Homo sapiens: one gene and its partners. The protein of the gene in region 3 purifies or fractionates together with the protein of the main gene of each other region. This does not show direct contact. Each region holds a gene or a part of one and is shown on either strand. Other genes may lie near its edges.

The links.
Region 1: the proteins of GEMIN5 (region 3) and SNRNP70 purify together in Homo sapiens (affinity purification with mass spectrometry; 5 studies listed by BioGRID and IntAct, with this or other methods). This does not show direct contact.
Region 2: the proteins of GEMIN5 (region 3) and DDX20 purify together in Homo sapiens (affinity purification with western blotting; 7 studies listed by BioGRID and IntAct, with this or other methods). This does not show direct contact.

Annotation. Positions count from the first base shown.
Region 1 is NC_000019.10:49,095,451-49,102,607, forward strand, and holds part of SNRNP70 (U1 small nuclear ribonucleoprotein 70 kDa), read left to right. Parts: intron 1-2,976; coding exon 2,977-3,041; intron 3,042-3,191; coding exon 3,192-3,254; intron 3,255-3,383; exon of another isoform or gene 3,384-3,396; coding exon of another isoform or gene 3,397-3,513; intron 3,514-5,939; coding exon 5,940-6,021; intron 6,022-6,708; exon of another isoform or gene 6,709-6,723; intron 6,724-7,157. UniProt on the Homo sapiens protein: Component of the spliceosomal U1 snRNP, which is essential for recognition of the pre-mRNA 5' splice-site and the subsequent assembly of the spliceosome. SNRNP70 binds to the loop I region of U1-snRNA.
Region 2 is NC_000001.11:111,750,969-111,758,900, forward strand, and holds the start of DDX20 (probable ATP-dependent RNA helicase DDX20), read left to right. Parts: upstream 1-4,932; 5' UTR 4,933-4,956; coding exon 4,957-5,257; intron 5,258-5,677; coding exon 5,678-5,772; intron 5,773-7,932.
Region 3 is NC_000005.10:154,928,111-154,935,267, forward strand, and holds part of GEMIN5 (gem-associated protein 5), read right to left. Parts: intron 4,141-7,157; coding exon 3,989-4,140; intron 3,468-3,988; coding exon 3,348-3,467; intron 550-3,347; coding exon 417-549; intron 1-416. UniProt on the Homo sapiens protein: The SMN complex catalyzes the assembly of small nuclear ribonucleoproteins (snRNPs), the building blocks of the spliceosome, and thereby plays an important role in the splicing of cellular pre-mRNAs.

The DNA of each region.
Region 1 (7,157 bases), on a different chromosome or scaffold from region 3:
CTATTCTCTGTCGTCATCTGATGTGATCATAGGATCTCCTTATTTACCTCTTTCATTAGCATATGAACCCCATGAGGGTAGACACCTTTTTTTTTTTTTTTTTGGAGACAGTCTCACTCTGTTGCACAGGATAGACTGTAGTGGCACGATCTCGGTTTACTGCAACCTTCATCGCCTCCCTGGTTCAAGCGATTCTCTTGTCTTAGTCTCCTGAGTAGCTGGACCACACCCAGCTAATTTTTTGTGTATTTTTAGTAGGGATGAGGTTTCGCTGTGTTGATCAGGCTGGTCTTCTTGAACTCTTGGTCACAAGTGATCCGCCTGCCTTGGCCTCCCAAAGTGCTGGCATTACAGCTGTGAGCCACTGCGCCCAGCACCTTTTTTTGTCTTGTTTACTGCGAAATCCCCAACAACTATAGCATTTCCAGGCACATAGTAGATGCTTAAGAATTACTTACTTACAAGAGCACAAACATCGGCGAATAAAAAGAATTACCTATTGAATGAATGAGAGTTAGCTGGTGCAAAAAAAAAAAAAAAAAAAGCCAGTGCAGATTGAGAGACCTGGCCATAGAAAATTACAACGCTCAGGGATAAGGTATGGCAAGGAACGTTTTTTGTTTTTTGTTTTTTTTTTCGCTTTATTGCCGAGGCTGGAGTTCAGTGGTATGATCTCGGCTCACTGCAATCTCCACCTCCCAGATTCAAGCAATTCTCCTGCGTCAGCCTCCCGAGTAGCTGGGACTATAGGCGCACACCACCATGCCCTGGTAATTTTGTATTTTTAGTAGAGACGGGGTTTCGCCATGTTTGCCAGGCTGGTCTCAAACACCTGACCTCAGGTGATCCGTCCGCCTTAGCCTCCCAAATTGCTGGGATTACAGGTGTGAGCCACTGTGCCCAGCCTGGCAAGGAACTTGAGGAGTGGGTGGAGAGAACGCTGAGATGGAGTTGTTTTCAGACGTTTCCATTTGTCCCAGATAGCGATTCCCTTAAATTGTGGCTTAGGCTTCTGTTTTCTAAAATATTCTTAGGCCAGGTGCGGTGGCTCACGCCTGTAATGCCAGCACTTTGGGAGGCCGAGGCAGGCAGATCACCTGAGGTCAGGAGTTCGAAACCAGCCTGGCCAACATAGTGAAACCCCGTCTCTACTAAAAATACAAAAGATTAGCTGGGTGTGGTGGTGTGTGTTTGTAATCCCAGCTACTTGGGAGGCTGAGGCAGGAGAATCGCTTGAACCCGGGAGGCGGAGGTTGCAGTAAGCCGAGATCTCGCCATCCATTGCACTGACCTTGGGCAACAAGAGTGACACTCCATCTCAAAAAAAGTACATTCCTTAAAGTCATCTTGACCTTAGTTTATACTTGTAGTTAAATTCTCTCATAAGAAACAAATCTGGCGGGACGCGGTGGTTCATGCCTGTAATCCCAGCACTTTGGGAGGCCGAGGAGGGCGGATCACCTGAGGTCAGGAGTTCGAGACCAGCCTGGCCAACATGGCGAAACCCCATCTCTACTAACAATACAAAAATTAGCTGGATGTGGTGGTGCACGCCTGTAATCCCAGCTGCTTGAGAAGCTGAGGCAGGAGAATTGCTTGAACCTCGGAGGCAGAGGTTGCAGTGAGACGAGATTGCGCCATTGCACTTTAAGCCTGGGCAACAGAGCAAGACTCTGTTTAAAAAAAAAAAAAATCTGAGACTTTATTTCTCTAGCTTCTGGCAACACCCACACTGTCTTCCTGAAAAGGTAGCACCCGAGGGTTCGGGGAAGGAGCCTGGTAGTTCAAGTGCCCGGGGTGAGAGGTGAAGTCTGCCTTGGCCCTTCGCCACTTTAACACCTCCCTTTTTCTGTGTCTCGAGTTTGTTCTGTTTTACTTCCATTTGCAAAATAGTAATAAATAAATATCAGTGTCCAGCACTGTGTCTGGGCCATAGTACGTGTTCAGTAAATTATATGTCTAATGTTCCATTATTGGAACGCTAAGCATGTGGGAGTTATTTATATCCTACTGCTCGGGTCATCACCAGGGTCTGATTTTTCACACGTGTCTGCAATTCAAAAAATTGCAACCTCTGGCATAAATGGGTTAATGTTATTCCTTTTCTCATGCTCTCCCAGAATGTGACAGGGCTTCCGAGGGAAACACTATACCATGGAAGAACCGGCAGAGTGTCCTTAAGGCCCCGGCAGGAGTCAGGGTCATTATGTGCTGGAGCCACCATATTTGGTGAAAAGGACTTATTCCCAGGCCTGACCCAGCAGGATCACCTATGAAATTGGTTTCTTAGGAGATTCCTGGCTCTTTTCTTTGGAGATTGTTATTCCTTAGTAGCCAGGTAGAACAGTTTGCCTCACAGTAGTGAGGCTGGAGTGAGAATCTGATCTGACGCTAGTCAGTTCCTGGGTTCCTTTTTAGAGACACAGGGCACAGACAGGAAAGCAGAGCTTACTTAGTGTTTGCTTTCCTGGCTCTCATTCTTAGCCTTGGGGCAGCTTGGTCTCAGGTTTTCCTGTGGGCTGTAGTTGCAGTCTGTGTCCAGTAGGTGGCAGTGTGGCCCTGCCTACAGGAGGGAGCTCAGAACCTGGGGGCATCAGCTGCATCTCCAGGGAGGCCCAGTTGGGCTATTACTGTTTGGATCACCTTGCATCTGGGAGCGATAGGGCCCTTAGGGTTTATGTAGGTCTGAAATGGCAGTTGGGCCTGCCCACATCCTGTCAGCTTGAAGTCAGCCTTACCTCCTCTCCTCAGCAGCCTGGATTATCTCTCAGCCACTCTGATAAAGCCCACTGTGCCTCAGAGAAACAGGTTCAGAGAGGGGCGTCCCTGAGGTTGCCAGGTCACCACCCATGTTCCTCCAGTTAGGGGCCTCTCCCAATGCCACCGTTTTCTTCTTGGCCTCTGCCCATCGTATTTGTTTTGCTACCTGAGACCATGGACACCTTCAACTTATAAAATTCCTTTCTTCCTGCACAGGGGACCCTCACAATGATCCCAATGCTCAGGGGGATGCCTTCAAGACTCTCTTCGTGGCGAGAGTGGTAAGTCCCCAGCTCCTAGCTCCTGGAACCCCACGCTGCTGAGAGCCTGGGTCTGGCACAAAGGTCAAATAGGCTAGGTACAGGGGAATGTTCCAGGGGCTGTGGGACAGCTCTGTTCTCCCATTTAACGTCATATCCATCTCCTTGTAGAATTATGACACAACAGAATCCAAGCTCCGGAGAGAGTTTGAGGTGTACGGACCTATCAAAAGAGTAAGTGGAGTGGGTCAGGGTGTTTGAATTGGGGGTGCATGGAGGAGGGGCTGTATCCTGAGAGGGAGGGAGAGAGGTCCCAGCCCTGAGCATGGCTCACACCATTTCAGGGCCTGGATTTATGCATCCTGACTGTATCTCCATGCAGCAGACCTTGGGCAGCAGAAGTAAAATGAGAAGTAATGACTGCTGGTGGTTGGTTGAGAGCAGGGGTTGGCAAACTACAGACTTAAAGTTTTCCTGCTGCTCAGCCAGGCAGGTCTGTTTGTTTACACATTGTCTTTGGCTGCTACTGTTGTAAGGCAGGGTTGGATTGTTGCAACAGTATACGGCCGTCCAAGCTGGAAATATCTACTCTCTGGGTCTTGGCAGAATACCTATGCTGAGTCCCGTTTTAGAGGAAGGCTTTGTTTTACCAATCTTCTTTTAAGTCACTGAAGTGCTCTGTGTCTGATTTCCTTTATCTAACATGGGAGACGCATGCCTTCACTGGGCAGTAGTGAGGGCTTGAGGCCATCCTACACACAAACTGATGTTAGCCATGTCTCTTCTCCCTGCTCTGTTTCTGATACGTCTTTTAAAAATATTTATACATGTCAGGCCGGGTGCAATGGCTCACACCTGTAATCTCAGCTCTTAAGGAGGCAGAGGCGGGAGGATAGCTTAAACCCAGGAGTTCGAGACCTGCCTGGGCAATATAGCAAGACCCCGTTCTCCACACAAAGGAAAAAAAAAGTATTGTTGGGCCAGGCACGGTGGCTCACGCCTGTAATCCCAGCACTTTGGGAGGCCGAGGTGGGCGGATAACCTGAGGTCAGGAGTTCGAGACCAGTCTGACCAACATGGTGAAACCTGGTCTGTACAAAAAAAAAAAAAATACAAAAATTAGCTGGGCATGATAGCGGGCGCCCGTAATCCCAGCTACTGAGGAGGCTGAGGCAGGAGAATTGCTTGAACCCAGGAGGCGGAGGTTGCAGTGAGCCGAGATCACACCACTGTACTCCAGCCTGGGCAACAGAGTGGGACTCCATCTTAAAAAAAAAAAAAAGTATTGTAGGCTGGGCGTGGTAGCTCACGCCTGTAATCCCACATGTTGGGAGGGCGAGGCAGGCAGATCACCTGAGGTCAGGAGGCAAGACCAGCCTGGCCAACATGGCGAAACCCCGTCTCTACAAAAATACAAAAGATTAGCCGAGTGTGGTGTCTCGTGCCTGTGTGTGTGTGTGTATGTGCATGTGTATATATGTGTACACACACACACACACGTTGTTCTGCCTTGCACAGCCCAGTGACAACCTTGGCCCCACCCTTGTCCCTCTGATCCATTCAAGTCAGGAATCTTGGTTGTGTTTTGGAGGCTGTGGGGTCCCAGGTTCATCCATGATACAGGTTGGTCGCCAACTGGTAGTGATGTGAATGGCGAACTAGCCATCCTTTAGGGACCAGCTCAAATGCTGTTACCTCCCAGAAATCTTCCCTGGTTCATTCTGGCCACCTCTGTCTCAACAGCCCTGCCTTGCCCGTTGTTCTCCCTGACATGGTCCCCAAGGGGTCTTTCTGACATCCAGAGCTGACCCCATCTCTGCTGACAGCATCCCATGGGTCCCTAGCATGTTAGGACAGGTCCAGCTGCCACCATCTGGCCTTCCAGGGCTCTTCCCCAAGCTGTGTGGCCTCATGGACCTCCACCCCACCCCATCTCCTCCCTTCTCTTGCTGCCATCCTCGGGATGGGACGCATCCCTCATCGTGCCACGTTCTCTCAAGCCTCCCTGGCTGTGCACGTGTCCTTTCTTTTTCCCTTAGAACTTCCCTGTCCTTGGCCAGGCACAGTGGCTCACGCCCGTAATCCCAGCACTTTGGGAGGCCGAGAAGGGCAGATCATGAGGTCAGGATTTCAAGACCAGCCTGGCCAACATGGTGAAACCCCATCTCTACTAAAGATACAAAAAATTACCCAGGTGTGGTGGCGCACGCCTGTAATCCCAGCTACTTGGGAGGCTGAGGCAGGAGAATCGCTTGAACCCGGGAGGTGCAGGTTGCAGTGAGCTGAGATTGAGCCATTGCACTCTAGCCTGGGCAACAGAGCAAGACTCTGTCTCCAAAAAAAAAAAAAAAAAAAAGAATTCCCGTCCCATTGGCATTCACAACTCCCTCCTGTTTCCCTAATTCCATTTGTGTCCTCCTGACTCCACGTAGACCACCCACATTGGCCCTTCCTTGCTCAACACCCTTCCCAGCTCCTCAGCGACCACACTTCTCGGCCTGGCATTGGGGCGCTTGATGACCCCGGGCCTGCCCACCTTTGTGGCTTCATCTCCTGGGACTCTCTGTCATCAGTACATGAGCCAGCCCTGCCGAAGCGCATCCCCAGCCTCCTGCCCTCCTGCCCCCGGGCCCTTGGACCTCTGGAGTTACTGCTATTCCACCTGACAGGCTGACACCTCACTGTCTTCCTTCATCTCTCTTCTTTCTTTAGGTCTTAGCTTAAGTGTCATTTTCTCCAGGAAGCCGCCTCTGTGTCCTCTGCTCCTGCCATTAGAACATAAGTCACTCAGGGCTCTTGAAGGACAGAGAGGGTCTGAGGCCTCATCCGGCCCAGGGCCTGGTGTGCAGGCTGTTGTGGGGTTGGTGGGGCGGAGCCGCCCTGTGGCAGGACTCACCCCTGTCCCCATGTGCCCCACAGATACACATGGTCTACAGTAAGCGGTCAGGAAAGCCCCGTGGCTATGCCTTCATCGAGTACGAACACGAGCGAGACATGCACTGTGAGTACCTCCCGCCGAGCCCTGCCCTCTGACCTGCTCTCACTTCTCTGCTGCCCCAGCCCCTCCCAGTCTGTCCCCTCCCCCACCCTGCCACACCTGACATTAGCGATGTCTCTTCTCCTCCTCCCTCTGTTTCTGATGTATCTTTTTTTTTTTTATATACGTGTTTTTTAAAAAACAAAAACCAAATCCCCCACAACGTGTGTGTGTGTGTGAACCTGGGGAGGTAAGTGTCACACGTTGAACCTCAGGGGCAAAGAGGGAACTGGGTGGGGGGCTGGGGCCAGCTGGAGGTGGGGGGAGGGGTCGGATTTTGGGGGAACCTCCCCCATTCCCCCCACTGAAGTTGGGGGTGGCCAGGTTGCAATGAGGACTGGCCTTTGAACCTGCCCTCTCTTCCCCCCCCAGTAGAACTGGGGCTGGGCCACCCGACCCTCCGCTTCCCCAACCCTGGCCCCCCACCCTGTTCCTCAGCGGGCAGTGGGGTGATAGGCATGTTGAGCGCCTGCCCCTACAGTTCCAAAGCCCCCTTTGAGGCTGCCGCGGCGTCCACATGGGCAGGGATGGGTGGGGGAGGGTGGGCAGGGCTGCGGCGTGTCCAGGGGCCGCCGTATTAATTGACTGTTCTTATTGTCACTGCAGCCACCACGCAGCTGGCTTGCAGCTGATGCTTACGCTCCCCTTACAACACCTCAGTGTATGGTTGGTATAAGGGTTTGTATCATGGGTAAGATCACTCAGCACCGCACACCAGCCCAGCTTAGCCAGGCAGCTCAGGAGCAGCGAGGCGCCCCTCCTCCCACCCCAGTCGCCCCCGTAGCCTCCCCGCACCCATGGCCCTTTCCTTGTTTGGGTGCCCTTTGTCCCTCCTGCCCCGATCCGTATGCTCTCTGAGAATCTTGCTGATCCCAGGAGGGGAAGGATGAACCTGGTGGGAAAGGCGGCGGCCTCTCCGCTTGGGTTCCACCCAGCCTCTGATGACCCGGCTTCGTGATGTCAGCGGCGAGGTGGCAGGAACACCGAGGGCAGGGCTCCAGGCCAGGGCTCCACTGGAGCCCTTCAGCCTTCCCTCCCTGCCCCCGTGCTTTCTATGGGGCTGCTACTGTGCTGGCCCTGGAGAGTCTTTTTGGCTGCTA
Region 2 (7,932 bases), on a different chromosome or scaffold from region 3:
CGCCTCTACACAAACTGTTCTCTGTGCCTAGAATATCTTTCTGAGACTTGTCTGCCTGGTGAGCTCTCTTTCCACTCCCACTGCCTGATGAACGCCTTATTCAGGATAAGCTCAGGGTATCAGCCCCCACTGCTTCACAGGACTTGAGCTTTGTCTCCTGGTGCTGCTGTCTTGGCAGAAGTGCTGGACTCCAGGAATTAGGTAAACAATGATCTTGTATGTGCAGTTGTTCTCTCATACTTCCATACATACTTGAAGCAACTTTGATTTGGGGTGTGGAGGAGAAGGACATAGAGAAGAAAGCTATTGCTCTTTGAATACCAAAAGCTGTTTTCCTCAGTTTCTCAGAAGTTCTCACTCTCTCCCACGACAGCCACACTTTGAACAACTAAGGCCCTGAAAAAATGTCAGTACTGCATATGATTTTACACCAGCTTGTGCTACTTGCATATTTCATGCTTGATCATTTCCCCAGCTGGGCTGTCAACTCTTTTAGGACAGAGGATAGAAAGAGCCTAGACTTTGCTGTCAAATAGATCTGAGTTCCAATCCCAATTATGAGCTCTGTGACTTTGAGCAGATTACTAATCTTCTTCTGAGGAGTTACTTGAGGGCAGCATCTCCTTCGGCATCTGACATGTAGAAGGCTTTTAGGATAAAGTCCAGACACCAACCTGGCCTACACTTCACTCTCCTGCTCATCAAAGCTTACTGTCCCATTTGCATTCTAAGCTCTTTTAGAATGTGCTATGGTGGTCCTCACCTCCAGACCTCCGTTTTCCCCTCCTCTGTCACAAGGCCAACTTTGATTCATTTTTCAGACTTACTGTAGCTCTCACTAATGCTAGGAAGATGTGGCAGAGACTGTTAGTTGCCTCCAATGTCCTTTCCCCCTTCCTCTATAGTAATGGACCTCCTCTCAAATCAGTGTACAGCTGGGCACGTGATTGTCCAGAAAAATGACATTTCCCAGATTTTTTTTTTTTTTTTGCAAGAAGGTATAACTTTATGGCTAAGTTCTTTCCAAGAAATGCCAGATAGTGTGGCAGCTTTTGAGAACATTTCTTAAAAGGACTGCTGGCATGATGACCATTACCATTTCTACTTTCTATTTTGAGTCTTCCTCCTTCCTGCTGGCTGCAATGCAAACGTGATGACTGGAACTACAGCAACTGTTTGGGGACCAAGGCAGAAGCCTGGGTGATTGGGATCTTTGTGGATCAGGGCTGTTTATCAGTCCTGCTTCCAGAATTCTCTACAAGGGCAAAATGAACTTCTATCTTGGGGAGGTAAGCTCCTATTTTGGGGCCTTACTTTCAATCAAACCTAATCTTGATGGCTAAGTCTTTCTTGGCTCCCCACATCTGGTTACCTCCTTGACTTCAGTAGCACCCTGCACTTTATACAGGAAATGAGGATACCTGTTTGTGTGCATCTGTCTCCCCAAGTGCAGAGGCTCTGTTTACTTTGTTCCATTTTTGTATCTCTAGCACTTGGCTGGTTTATACTAGGTGTTCAGAAAATTTTTGTTGAATGATTAGAGATGTTTTGTAGATTGAATGCAAATAATAATATTGCCTACCTTGTGTTGCTTTGAGGGTCAAATGAGAAAAAGTGGCTTTAAAATCTTAAGTTTTCTTCCCTTCTTTCCACATTCCCCCACCGATCCTCACACCCAGGGTGGGCCACCTTACAGTATGCCTTCCTTTATACTGTTTTCTTTTTCTTTTTTTTTTTTCTTTTGAGACGGAGTCTCGCTCTGTTGCCCAGGCTAGAGTGCAGTGGTGTGATCTCGGCTCACTGCAAGCTCTGCTTCCCGGGTTCACGCCATTCTCCTACCTCAGCCTACCGAGTAGCTGGGACTACAGGTGCCCACCACCACGCCCGGCTAACTTTTTGTATTTTTTTTCTAGTAGAGACAGGGTTTCACCATGTTAGCCAGGATGGTCTTGATCTCCTGACCTTGTGATCCGCCCACCTCGGCCTCCCAAAGTGCTGGGATCACAGGCGTGAGCCACCGCGCCTGGCCTGTTTTCTTTTCCTCTGGGTTCAGAAGCCTCCAGTGCAAAATGATTGGATGAGATCATTTGAATCTTAACACCCATTCTGAGTCTAAGTGTCACTCTCACCTTTTCAGTTCATAGGAATCTCTCCCTCCTCTAGCTCCCTGGAAAGGCTCTCCAGGTAGATGGAACAGCAAATACAAAGGTATTGAGGTGTTACAAGTCATGGAGAATTAAGCATCTGGGCTAGTTGGGTCTGGTTGGAGGAGGTAGATGGGCTGCTCTGCCAGAGAAGAGACAGGGATCCCACTGTTATTTATCCCGGGGGAGGCTGGGAGACAGACACAATCAAGCCCATTTCTGTATGTGTTATGCTCACACCTTACCTAGTTATTAAATGATTTCTTGCTTTTGTGCAAGAGATCTTTATAGCACTAAAAATTATGGTCAACAACACTGTTATAACTTTTGACTAGTGAGAAAAAAAATTTGTGTTATTCACCATGGTTCCCAATAACATTACTGCAATATTTGTGTCTGTAAAACATCAAAAACAACAAATGCAGTAACAGAATGCCTATAAAACTATAAATGTTTTCTGGAAATGTAGTCTTTTTGCTTTTCTTGGGATAATCCTGTGGTTCTTCAGCAGTGATTGGTGTGAGTTCTACAGAACCGCTGCTATGTGCATGGAGACCCAGAAGAGATTTTTGAGCAAGAAGGTGTCAGCCATTCAATGTTTATTGGGTCTACCAGGTGCTTGGTGCTGGCCTGGAGGGCCTAGGATGACAAAATTACTGTCCTTGAGAAGCTCACAGTTTATTTAATGTGAGGCACATACAAGTAACCAAGCAAATACAACATAAGAGCCAGACTGGAATTATTTATAGTGTGATGTGGGACCCTGGGGTGGGGAATAAAAAAGGGTATCAAAAGGAGCAGGATCAAAAGGAGCAGGATCTGGAGCTGGACCCAAACAGCTTAAGATATCCACTTAAGAAAGATCACTCCAGCACCTGTGGGGTACATGGCTGGGATAGAGAAGAAACTCTGGCCAGAGAAACCATTCAGGAGGTTTTTGCGAGTTAGGATGATAAAGGGATCTAAAATATAGGGCAGATTCTACGGAGACTGAAGAAGAATGGGTGAAATATTTGGAGGCAAAATTACTTGTGCTTGGTAAATTGTTAGAAAGTGGCAAAGGAGTCAAGAATAATTCCCAGGTTTGTGGTCTGGGGATTAGGCAGATAAAAGAGGTGAGGGCACTAAGAGGAAGGCTGGGACCTTTAGTGCCATCTCCACCATCAGTCTCCATTCCTTCAAACGGATAGTTGACATTTTCTCAATGTTTTGTACATTTCCAGGCAAAATAAACCTTCAGGACCACCTTCCAATGGGATTACCATGTCAAAGCCCCTCCTATATCATATGGAATCTAGACCATCACTGTGTGTGTGTCAAGGGGGTAGGGACAATGACCAGCATTATAATCTATGGACAAAGTTGGGCTTGGTTGCAGAATATATTTAAGTTTGGTATTCTTTGTATTTTTAAAAATTTGTTTACTTTTTAAGAATTTGAGACAGGGTTTCTGCATGTTGCCCAGGCTGGCAACTCCTGGCCTCAAGCAATCCTCCCGCCTCAGCCTCCCAAGAAGCTGGAATCACAGGTGCGAGCCACCCCACACAACTAAATTTGGAATTATGAATATGGCTGAGGTCCAGAAATATTTAAATTTGGCATGATGACTAAGAGTTTGTTATAGGAGCTCAATCATTTGATAAATATTGAACATTTCCTATGTGTCAGATTGTTTTTCCCACTAGGGATGCAGAGGAGAACAAGACAGAATAGGTTCTTGTCCTCATAGAGTGTGGGAGACAGGCAGAAGACATATAATTTCAGGTAGGTATAAGTATCATAAAGAAAAAATAAAGCAAAACAAGAGAGTGCTGGGAAAGGCCAGGGAGCAGAGAGGATGACAGAGCTGTCTTAGGGTGTTCAAGACCTCTTTGAAAAGCTGATATTTGAGCAGAAGACCACAGCAAGGAAAAGTGGCAGAGACTGCTAGCTGCCTACGCATGAAATGATGGGGGAAGGAGCAATACAGAAGGCATGTAACATTTGAGAGTCTATTAGGCATCCCAAGGGAGGTGCTGCGGAGGCGGATGCATGGAGGCGGATGCGGAGGCGGATGCATGGAGGCGGATGCATGGAGGCAGATGGATGCACACGTCTAGAGTTTAAAAGGAGATCTGAGGCGGAGATACGAACTTGGGAGCTGTTAGTCCAGTTCCAGGTTCCAATTCAACGTACTTTTATCAGAGCTCACTGTGCGCCAGGGACTTGCTAGGAGATAAATGGGGTTTATCTCACCGGAGATAAATGTGGTTGCACAGCAGATGGACACACCAGCCAATGTGGTAAATAAACCCTTGGGTCCAGCTACGTTCTGCGCGCTCTCTGCCAGCACAGAGGAGCAGCGAGTCAGGGTACGGAGCGGGTAGCGTTGGGGAAGAGGTGGCCGCGAAGCGAGACAGGCCAGCGGAACGGAAAACGGAAGCACGAGACGGGGGCGTGACGCACCGGGCGCATCACAAAGAACGGCGAGAGGGCGGTGGCGCCGGGGGCACGGCTGGGCGGCTCCGCCCAGAAGAGGGCCGAGAGGCGGGGCGGTGCCCCCACCGCAGGCCCGCGGCGCCCTCTGCAGGCCACAGGCAGCGACTCACCAGTTGCCTCATCTTTCCTCTCCTCCCTCTTGGGGCTTTCCTCAGGCCACATTTTTTGTGTGTCTGGGCAGTCTCTCAGCCTCCGACTCCCGTCCCTTTCTTCCACTTCCAGGCCGGGCGTGTTAGTGTCTTCGCGGGAAAACTGCCAATAAAGTTTTTCTTCTTCTCGCTCCCAAGATCCCCGCCTCCCCTTAAGCACCGCGAGATCTGACGGCGCGGCTACCATGGCGGCGGCATTTGAAGCCTCGGGAGCCTTAGCAGCAGTGGCGACTGCTATGCCGGCTGAGCATGTGGCCGTGCAGGTCCCGGCCCCAGAGCCAACACCCGGGCCTGTGAGGATCCTGCGGACCGCTCAGGATCTCAGCAGCCCGCGGACCCGCACGGGGGATGTGCTGTTGGCGGAGCCGGCCGACTTCGAGTCACTGCTGCTTTCGCGGCCGGTGCTGGAGGGGCTGCGGGCGGCCGGCTTCGAGAGGCCCTCGCCGGTGCAGCTCAAGGCCATCCCGTTGGGGCGCTGCGGGCTCGGTGAGAGCGGGGGCCCGGGATAGGTCGGGGGGTGGGGTGGGAGAAGGGGGACCGACGGGCGGCGGCGGCCAGGCCCGCGCCGCAGCTCAGGAAGAGCCCTCGGTCGGCCCCCGGAGCAGGGCCCTGCCGGGGGCTAGGCGCTACGCTCAGTTAACTTATTTGTAAAACTAACGTGCACTATTGAACTTGAGGATAGTTAAGACCTTTTTTTAAGCACTGACAAATGGTTCTAAGTTTGAGAAGATAAACGGTAAACGTTCAGGGACTAGGCGTGTTCTCATACGTTTTTGAGAATCAACTAAAAATGAAGGTGCCAACTAGGGGAATCTCAGGAGACCCTTCTAGTTCTCTGATTCCATGTTAGCCCCTAAGTTGCTTCAGTGAGTACTGGCTAGTGATAATTGTTTTTTTCCTTCGCAGATTTAATTGTTCAAGCTAAATCTGGCACCGGGAAAACCTGTGTGTTCTCCACCATAGCTTTGGACTCTCTTGTTCTTGAAAACTTAAGTACCCAGGTGAGTTAGCTGAGAGGACCAGAGGAGGATGTGTTTTGTGGACTTTACCACAGGTCAGATGAAATACCAGTAGCTCCTCAGAGCTGGAAGTGAATTTGATGAATGATTGAGTTAAGTGGTGGTGGTGGCGAAATTTGGAATTTTCTATGCGTACCTTATTTAAATAGAATAAAGCTACCATATATGTCAATTTTGTCACTACTTGGTAATACAGACAGGGATTCTTCTTTTACTTACTGACTAGATTAATGTGAGACTTAACATTTGACTTGATTCATGGTAATGTAGTGCTCTGGCTATTGTTGGTAACTGCAGAGTTTGTTTTTTTTTTTTGAGACGGTGTCGCTTTGTCACCTAGGCTGGAGTGCAGTGGCGGATCATTGCTCACTGCAACCTTGAACTTCTGGGCTCCAGTGATCCTCCCACCCATCTTCCTAAGTATTTGGGACTACAGGTGTGTGCCACCACACCTGGCTAGTTCTTGTATTTTTTGTAGAGATGGGGTCTCCAGTGTTGCACAGACCAGCCTTGAACTCCTGGGTTCAAGCAATCCTCCCACCTTTGCCTCCCAAAGTACTGGGATTACAGGCATGAGCCACCACAGCCGGTATGCAGGTGGTTCTTAAAGCTCTGTAAATGTATCATATTGATCTCCCATCTTCCAGGTTGTCTTAGAGTGTTTCTAAGATTGCCTTACCCAAATTAGCAGGAAATTTGAGTTTGGGGATCATTTCTCCAACAAAGGTTTGTTGAGTCCGTATTACGTATAAACAGTGTGCCAGGCATTGGGGATTCAAAGATGAATTAGATGTGATTCTCATAGCCTTACTTGGTAGTTTAGTTGTTATGGCAGACTGTATTTCAAGTTCTCAGGCATTGGTATATCTGATGATGAATCTTCAACAGTGGTTTTTAACCCAGATATCCATGTTCATCACCTGGGAAGCTTTTTGAGTCCATCTTATGTCTACCAAATCCTAGGTGATGTTGCACATTGGAAATCCTCCTACTTCCCAAGAACCTGAGTTAGTCTAATTGTAGACTAAGATGTATTTGAGATTTTGGCTTCTGACAATTTGGCAGCAGATAAAATGCTGAAATCCTGGAAAAGTTTCATCAACTCATTTTTTTTTGAGACCGAGTCTCACTCTGTTGCCCAGGCTGGAGTCAGTGGCACAATCTTGGCTCACTGCAACCTCTGCCTCCCAGGTTCAAGTGATTCTCCTGCCTCAGCCTCCCGAGTAGCTGGGATTACAAGTGTGCACACCACACGCCCGGCTAATTTTTTTGTATTTTTAGTAGAGACGGTGTTTCGCCATGTCGGCCAGGCTGGTCTCAAACTCCTGACCTCAGGTAATCCACCTGCCTCAGCCTCCCAACATGCTGGGATCACAAGTGTGAGCCACCATGCCCGGCAAATTCATATTTTTAATTTCAGATCTTTGGATTATGAAAATTACATTATTCTCTGTGTGTGTATCAAAGTAATACATATTCATTTTTAGAAATAGGGAAAATTCAGAAAAATTAGGACGTACCAGAAAACAAAATCTGTAATCTTACTACCTAGAGAGAAACTGCTATTAACAGTTTTGGCATGTTTTCTCCTAGTCCTTTTTTTTTTTTTTTTTTTAAATCAATTTTTTTTTCTTGTAGTTAAGAGCACAAAGTTTTGTTTTCTCCTCCTCCAGTAGTTACATTGCAAAGTTTTTACCATGACTCTCAAGGTCTTTTGTGATCTAGTCCCTGGAGGTAGATCTCTGACCTCCTTTACTTTCCCCTGAATTCTGTCATGTGGGCCTTCTTTTTCTTCCTCAAATACACCAAGAACACTGCCATCTTATGGCCTTTCCATTTGCTGTTTCCTCTTGGTGAAAACGCTTCCCCAGGGGTCATATAGCCAGCTCTACTCTATGCCATTCACGTAGGTCTCTGCTCAAAGTACCTCCTTTGAGGAGGTTTCATGATCACCTCATTTAAAATGACTCCTTTTTTCCTTGTTTGATTTTTTTATGATACTTTTTATTACCTGTCATTACTTATTTTTGTTTACTGTATATATTCTTATCCAAGAATGAAAGTACCATGAGGGCAAAGACTTTGTACTGTTAACTGTTGATTCCCCGGCAACTAGTATGTTGCCTAGCACAGAGTAGGTTC
Region 3 (7,157 bases):
AACAGATTTATCTCCAGCCACTAGAAGTAGGTAGTCAATGAACTTTGTTTACTGAATGGGCATAGCCATCCAACCTAAGAGAAAATATTATAACCATCTCCCCTTTCTACACTTGAAGTGACTGAAGCTCAGAAAAGTAAAGGGTCTTGCTCAGGAATACAAGGCAGTAAGTGACAAAGTGATTCTGAAATTTAGTTCTGACTTCAGAGTCCATATTCCTAACTGCCGGACTATACTTATGTGATCTTTTTACAGCTCTGTTAGTAGATAGCACAGGCATTAGTCTCATAATTTTTCCATTTCAAATGGCCCATCATAATACAAGCCTTGGCCATTACTTTCTCCATCCTAGGAGGACTTGAGGCCAAATAGAAAAACAAAATATATCTGAGAAAGCATGACCAAAAAAGACTTACCCAAAACAGCTAGATACCAGCTGTGTTGGTTGATTGCTGGGCCAATGGAGTGTCAACCAAAGGCGCTCTTTAACAGTTGGGTCTATACCCCCTCCTCTTCTCTTCAGAAAGGGCAATTTCAAAATCATCACCCCTGCAGATTAAAAAGAAGGCCAGTGGGCACTCAAGACAGTGAAACTACATGCATGAAGTCACCGGTGGTTCATAACACACAGTCTGCGCTGTAAAAGCTTGTTAGTTTGGCTACTTAGAATTCAGATCTCATTTTCCAATGGTTACAATTTTAACCATTATTATGGTTATAATTTTAATCACTATAAATACTGGTTAATACTAGTCTAGCTACATTTAGGTCAAACAAGCTTCGACAGGCTATCTTGACAACCTCAACGTATTAAGAGTATTTTTTTTTTTTGGCCGGGCGCGGTGGCTCATGCCTGTAATCCCAGCACTTTGAGAGGCCGAGGCGGGAGGATCACGAGGTCAGGAGATCGAGACCATCCTGGCTAACATGGTGAAACCCTGTCTCTACTAAAAATACAAAAAAATTAGCCGGGCGTGGTGGCAGGCACCTGTAGTCCCAGCTACTCGGGAGGCTGAGGCAGGAGAATGGCATGAACCCAGGAGGTGGAGCTTGCAGTGAGCTGAGATCGTGCCACTGCACTCCAGCCTGGGCGACAGAGAGAGACTCTGCCTCAAAAGAAAAAGAGTATTTTTTCGTCTGGGAAAATGAGTTCCCAAGTAAAACTGAGAACCCAGCTAGTAACACAGCTGAGTTGTGTACCCAAAAGTATTGCAGTGACATAACTCCAAAGTGAAAAGGACAGAGGTTGGGATTACTATTTCTAGTCGGCAAGAAATCCAACAAAGAAAAATTTGGCAGTGAACGTGCTGTGGGTGGGGAGTACCTCCACCCGACATGCTTCTAATCACCGTTTTTTAAGCTGTATTGTGCATCGGAACCACAGGTGGAACTTTAAAAAATACATACGCCAGGGCCTAACTCCTAGAGATTCGGACTCAGTAGATCTGAGGTGGGGTACAAGAACCTACATTTTTCCAAAGACTCTCCAGCTGATTCTGCTGCACAACCACAATTGAAGGCCATTTTACCAGACACCTCTAAGTCTAGAGGTTACCCTCCTGGAGGGATCCTCAGCCTTATGTTCCCACTTGGAGTTTTAGCTGCAGTATGCCAAGAAGTAGCCTGTAAACCTTAAAAAAGTTCTGTCTTCCCAAATTATACTATTAGTTACCTACCACTGATGAAGCCTGGATGACATTCCAAGTGCTGTGCTACTTGCTTTACATGCATTTGGGCAAATATGATAAAACTATCATGGTTTCAAATAAAGTAGAAAGTACATCCATGCTCATAGCATATTATTTAGAATAGTAAAACATGGAAGCAACCCAAATGTCCATCAGTGTGTGAGATATGAGTTCTAAATTTCTCTTCAAAGAATCAATATGTCAGTATGTTCAATTATTTGGCTTCTGTTTTTAAACTTAACTTCCTCGTAAAAGCAACCTTTTTCGATTACCTGCTCCATCCTGACTCATTCCGATTACCTGCTCCACCCTGACTCATTCTGATTTCCTGCTCTGCCATAACCATTTTTCCTGCCATAACCATTTTCTCCCATCAAACCACTTACCCCGGCACTCTCTTTAAATCAGCGAATCAGAATTAGTTTAGCCTGTGCGGTCTAACCCTAGCTGATAGGGGAACGACACAGCAGCAGGGGCCACATGCGTCAGGGATAAGAACCCCTCCCCTCCGTTGTCCAAGTGTGCGCTCACCATTGCTCCATCTGTAAGGGCGCACCCTTCTATAGAAGTACATTGCCTTGCTGAGAATTAAAAAGAAAGTTTTATATTTGAGTGCTATTTCTTTTGCCACACCGAAATTTTATTTATAACAAGTGGATGAGTGGGTAAGTAAAATGTGGGACATACACACAATGGAATATTATTCAGCCTTAGAAAGGAAGGATATGCTGACATACGGTACCAACATCAATGAACCTCGGGGATATATGCTAAGTGAAATAAGCCAATCACAAAAAGACATATCATATGTATAACTTCACTCAAAGGAAATACTCAGAGTAGTCAAAATCATAGAGCTGAAAGCAGAATGATGGTTGCCAGGGCCTGGGGGAGGGGGAAATGGAGAGTAGAATTCTGGAGATGGGTGGCTGTGACAGTTGCACAACTTTAGAGTGTACTTCATACCACTTAAATGTACACTTAAAAGTGATAAAGATGGCAAATGTTATATTTTCCACCACAGCTTAAAAAACTGCCAAAAAAAATAAAATAAAATGAAGAAAGAAGAGAAGCCCGCTAGAAAGAGAAAAACAAGATTTTTACTATAAAGGTTATATTCTATGATATACTATAAATATTCATTATGCCTAGAGTTTCTCTCAATTTTTAAACTTAAAGATAAAAGTTCTGTTCAAAGAGACATTTGGGAAAGCTAAATGATTGAGGGGCTCTATAATTTGGATAAAATGAGCTTTTACACATAATTCTATGCTGGGTGTATGTAATTTATTCTGCATTTGTGCATTAAAAGCTCTAACTCTTAAGATATTTTCCATTCTCCTGGCTTAGGCCATATCATGTTCTAATATTCCTGTTTTTATTACAAATATTCTGCTCTCCATGCCAAACACTGACCCTTCTATAAAGCAAGAGATCCTTGTCTTCTCCTGGAATGCATGGGAAATACTAATCTCTAAGGCCAGATGTTGAGAGAATAGAGAGTCTAGGCCAGGCTCAAATGAGGAAGCAGAATTCTAGACCAAAAAGTGAAGAACTGCTCTCAAATAGATGACACACCCTCAGGACAATAAGAACAGAAAACCCTCTACTTCCACCAGATCAACATAGGTTACATCACAAAAGAAAGATCAATCTTACCTCGGCCTCTAGAACAGCTCCAGATTCGAATGGTTTGATCTTTGCTTCCAGTGGCTAAGTAGCAACCTTTTGTTACTGGAGCTTGTGCTACAGCATTCCCGTTGGTAATTTCAGCTTCTTCTATGAGATAGGTGGCAATTTTGTTTTTAATTTACATTAAACACGCACTAATATAAAAAAATTAGTTTGCAAGAGTTTCCAAAACTTAGCTATCTCTTTCATAGGTCTGAACTATAAAATTTGAAGTTTTAGGTATAATTAAAATGATATAATTCGGCCTGGTGCAGTGGCTCACGCCTGTAATCCCAGCATTTTGGGAGGCTGAGGCAGGTGGATCACCTGAGGTCGGGAGTTCAAGACCAGCCTGACCAACATGGAGAAACCTGTCTCTACTAAAAATACAAAATTAGCTGGGCGTGGTGGCGCATGCCTGTAATCCCGGCTACTCGGGAGGCTGAGGCAGGAGAATCGCTTGAACCCGGGAGGCGGAGGTTGCGGTGAGCCGAGATCACGCTCCAGCCTAGGCAACAAAAGCAAAACTCCGTCTCCAAAAATAAATAATAAATAAAAAATGATATAATTGTACCCGTTCTGTTCTTCAGGTCTCAAGTGGACTTAACTTTCCCTTAAACCATCTCTACCTGAAGTTTCCTCTTGGTTTATAGATAAACAATCTTCACCAGGCAGGGGACACCAGGCTATGGAGTGGATTTCATCATCATGGCCTCGAAGCCTATGAATAACTTCTCCTTTCTTACTGATGTCAATTATCACCACTATGCCATCCTTGTAGCTAAAAAACAAGAGTTAGAAATATTACTAAAAAAATGAAGACAGAACAGAGTCTCTAGTAAACATTTTGGCTTGGAGTTACCATTGGCGCATTCCTTAAAGTTAGGTGCATTTGGGGTGGCGGAGGAGGGAAGAGGACAAAAAATAATTTTGCTTTTTCCTTTTTTTAAAGTGCTCACCTTATGCCTCCTGGTTTTGTTAAAACCCTTCTCTCTATGATCAAACTCTTGGCACTAGGTAATACTATGTATGTTGCCTGGTACAAAACTCACAGTGGACCATGATTTTGTTCTAAGGGAATTTTCATAGTTTTTGCAAGGGTGCAGCAACTCTTCTTTTTTCCTTCTCTGTTGCCCAGGCTGGAGTGCAGTGGCACAATCACCACTTACTGCAGCCTTGACTTCCCAGGCTCAAGCAATCCTCCCACCTCAGCCTGGGACTGAGTAGCTGGGACTAAAGGTACATGCCATGCCCAGCTAATTTTTGTATTTTTTTGTAGAGATGAGGTTTCACCATGTTGCTCATGGCTGGTCTCAAACTCCTGGGCTCAAGCAATCTACCTGCGTTGGCCTCCTAAAGTGATGGGATTATAGGCATCAGCCACCACACCCGGCCAACTCTTCTAACTAGAGATAATTTTGTCCTAGTGCACTGGAAAATAATCTCTTTCTTTATAAGTGATACTACTTTTTAAACTGTGAACTTAACAAAAGTTGCAGAATTCTACACTCTAGACCTGCATATTCCAAGGCTGTCATTTTATGAATTCAAAAGAAACTGAGAAATTCTAATAGCTTTTTAAAAATGAATGACTTCAGATACATAAAAAAAGTAATCTACTACCCTGCCTAAGAAAAATAATTACCAATAGAGCTGAAGTCCTCTGTACATTCCACTTCAATCAAACCTCTCTCCTTGCCAGATCTCTTCTCCTTTTCTTCCTCTACCCAGAGGTCAAACTCTATTTGTGAATTGTGTTATATCATTCCTAGCCTTTCTTTGTATATATTCCTAAATAAGATATAGATTTTGCATATTTTAAAACTGCACATAAATGCTATCATCTATTTTCCTGCAGCTTGTTTTTTTCACTCATTCTGTTTGTAATTCATCCATGTTGATACACGTAACTCTAGTTCCTGGCCAGTCATTACACTATTGTATTAGTACTGCACTGTGTGAATATTTCAAAGTTTATTCATTTTCCTTTTGAAGGGCTTCCACTTTTTTACAACAAAAAAATGCTATTAATGTTCATGTACACATCTAAGACAATTTCAGGTTTGATGACTAGTAATGGAACTGCCAGGATGTTAAGATATATGCATTTTTATTAGAAAGTACAAAACTGCATTATACAAAGTGGCTGTACCTATTCACACTTCCTACACATTACAGCATTCGACAGGGAAGAACACCAGCACAGCTTTATTTATTTTTTTTTTTTAAAAGAAACACTAGAGTATGTCAACCTTTGAAGACCCGGACTTTGAAAACTGCCAAGTTATGCAACCTAATCACCAACAGATCAAGCTATTTAGAAATCTGAATCAAGCTTTCTGGGAATAATACTATTCTGAAGATCCTCCCCTGACTCCTGCCTACCACCTTTCTGTTCATCCTCTCTATCAACCCTACTACAACACTGCTCCCACTTCAAGAGACTGCCGATCCAGTCCCCTTCCATTTTCACTATCACTCACCCACACCTGTCTTTCCATACATCCCCCTACCCAATGCAGCACAGATTTCATGATCCATCACTATCATTGACTTTTTTTTTTGAGATAGAGTCTTGCTCTGTCGCTCAGGCTGGAGTGCAGTGGTGCAATCTCATCTCACTGCAACCTCCACTGCCCAGGTTCAAGCGATTCTCCTGCCTCACCCTCCTGAGTAGCTGGGCTTACAGGTGTGCGCCACCAAGTCTGGCTAATTTTTGTTTGTTTGTTTTTTTGAGACAGAGTTTCGCTCTTGTTGCCCAGGCTGGGGTGCAATGGCTCAATCCTGGCTCACCACAACCTCTACCTCCTGGGTTCAAGTGATCCTCCTGCCTCAGCCTCCCTAGTAGCTGGGATTACAGGCATGCGCCACCATGCCTGGCTAATTTTGTGTTTTTAATAGAGACGGGGTTTCTCCATGCTGGTCTTGAACTCCCAACCACAGGTGATTTGCCCACCTCGGCCTCTCAAAGTGCTGGGATTACAGGCGTGCACCACTGCACCTGGCCTGATTTTTTATTTTTAGTAGAGATGGGGCTTCACCATGTTGGCCGGGCTGGTCTTGAACTCCTGACCTCAGGTGATCCACCCGCCTCGGCCTCCCAAAGTGTTGGGATTACAGGTGTGAGCCACTGCGCCCAGCCTTATCATCAACTTTTAAAAATACCCGTACGCCCCGTCTCCTTCTCCCTCTCCCTCAAGAGTACTTACTCCACAAAGCCCCAAACCTGGCTGAATCCAACCATCTCCTTTCTCAAACAGTTTGGGTTTACTTTAAATTTATGGCCACGATTCTTTGTTTGCCACTCAACAGTGAACACTGGGCCTATAATTTTCCTTAGTACATTCGTTTTCCTATTCTCTTTGACCATTTTCATACCTTCTTTGCATATCCAGTTTCAACCCCATGATGAACTTGACTCTACCACTCTGACTTATGCCTCAATGAGAAAATCAGAAATACCAGAATAGAACACCTTTTTCTTCCAAGCACATCTACAAATCTACCTGCACCTATTTCTATATTCCCAGCTGTTCTTTCTTCTTGTCATCTGAATCCAATCCCCTCTTGACTTTTCAGCAATACCCCTGCATTTATCATAGTTTACTCCTGCAACAAGCTCTTCCTCTTTTCAAGCCTTACTTTCATCAGCATAAAAACAGGTCCCTGGTATTTTCCATTTAATACTCCCTTGACCCCATCTATCCCCTCTGGCTTCATGTATATGCACATTTTTACAACAAACTTTGTGAAAGAGTTGTTGTCTCTTTGTGTATCTCTATTGCCTTAGCCCCCAGT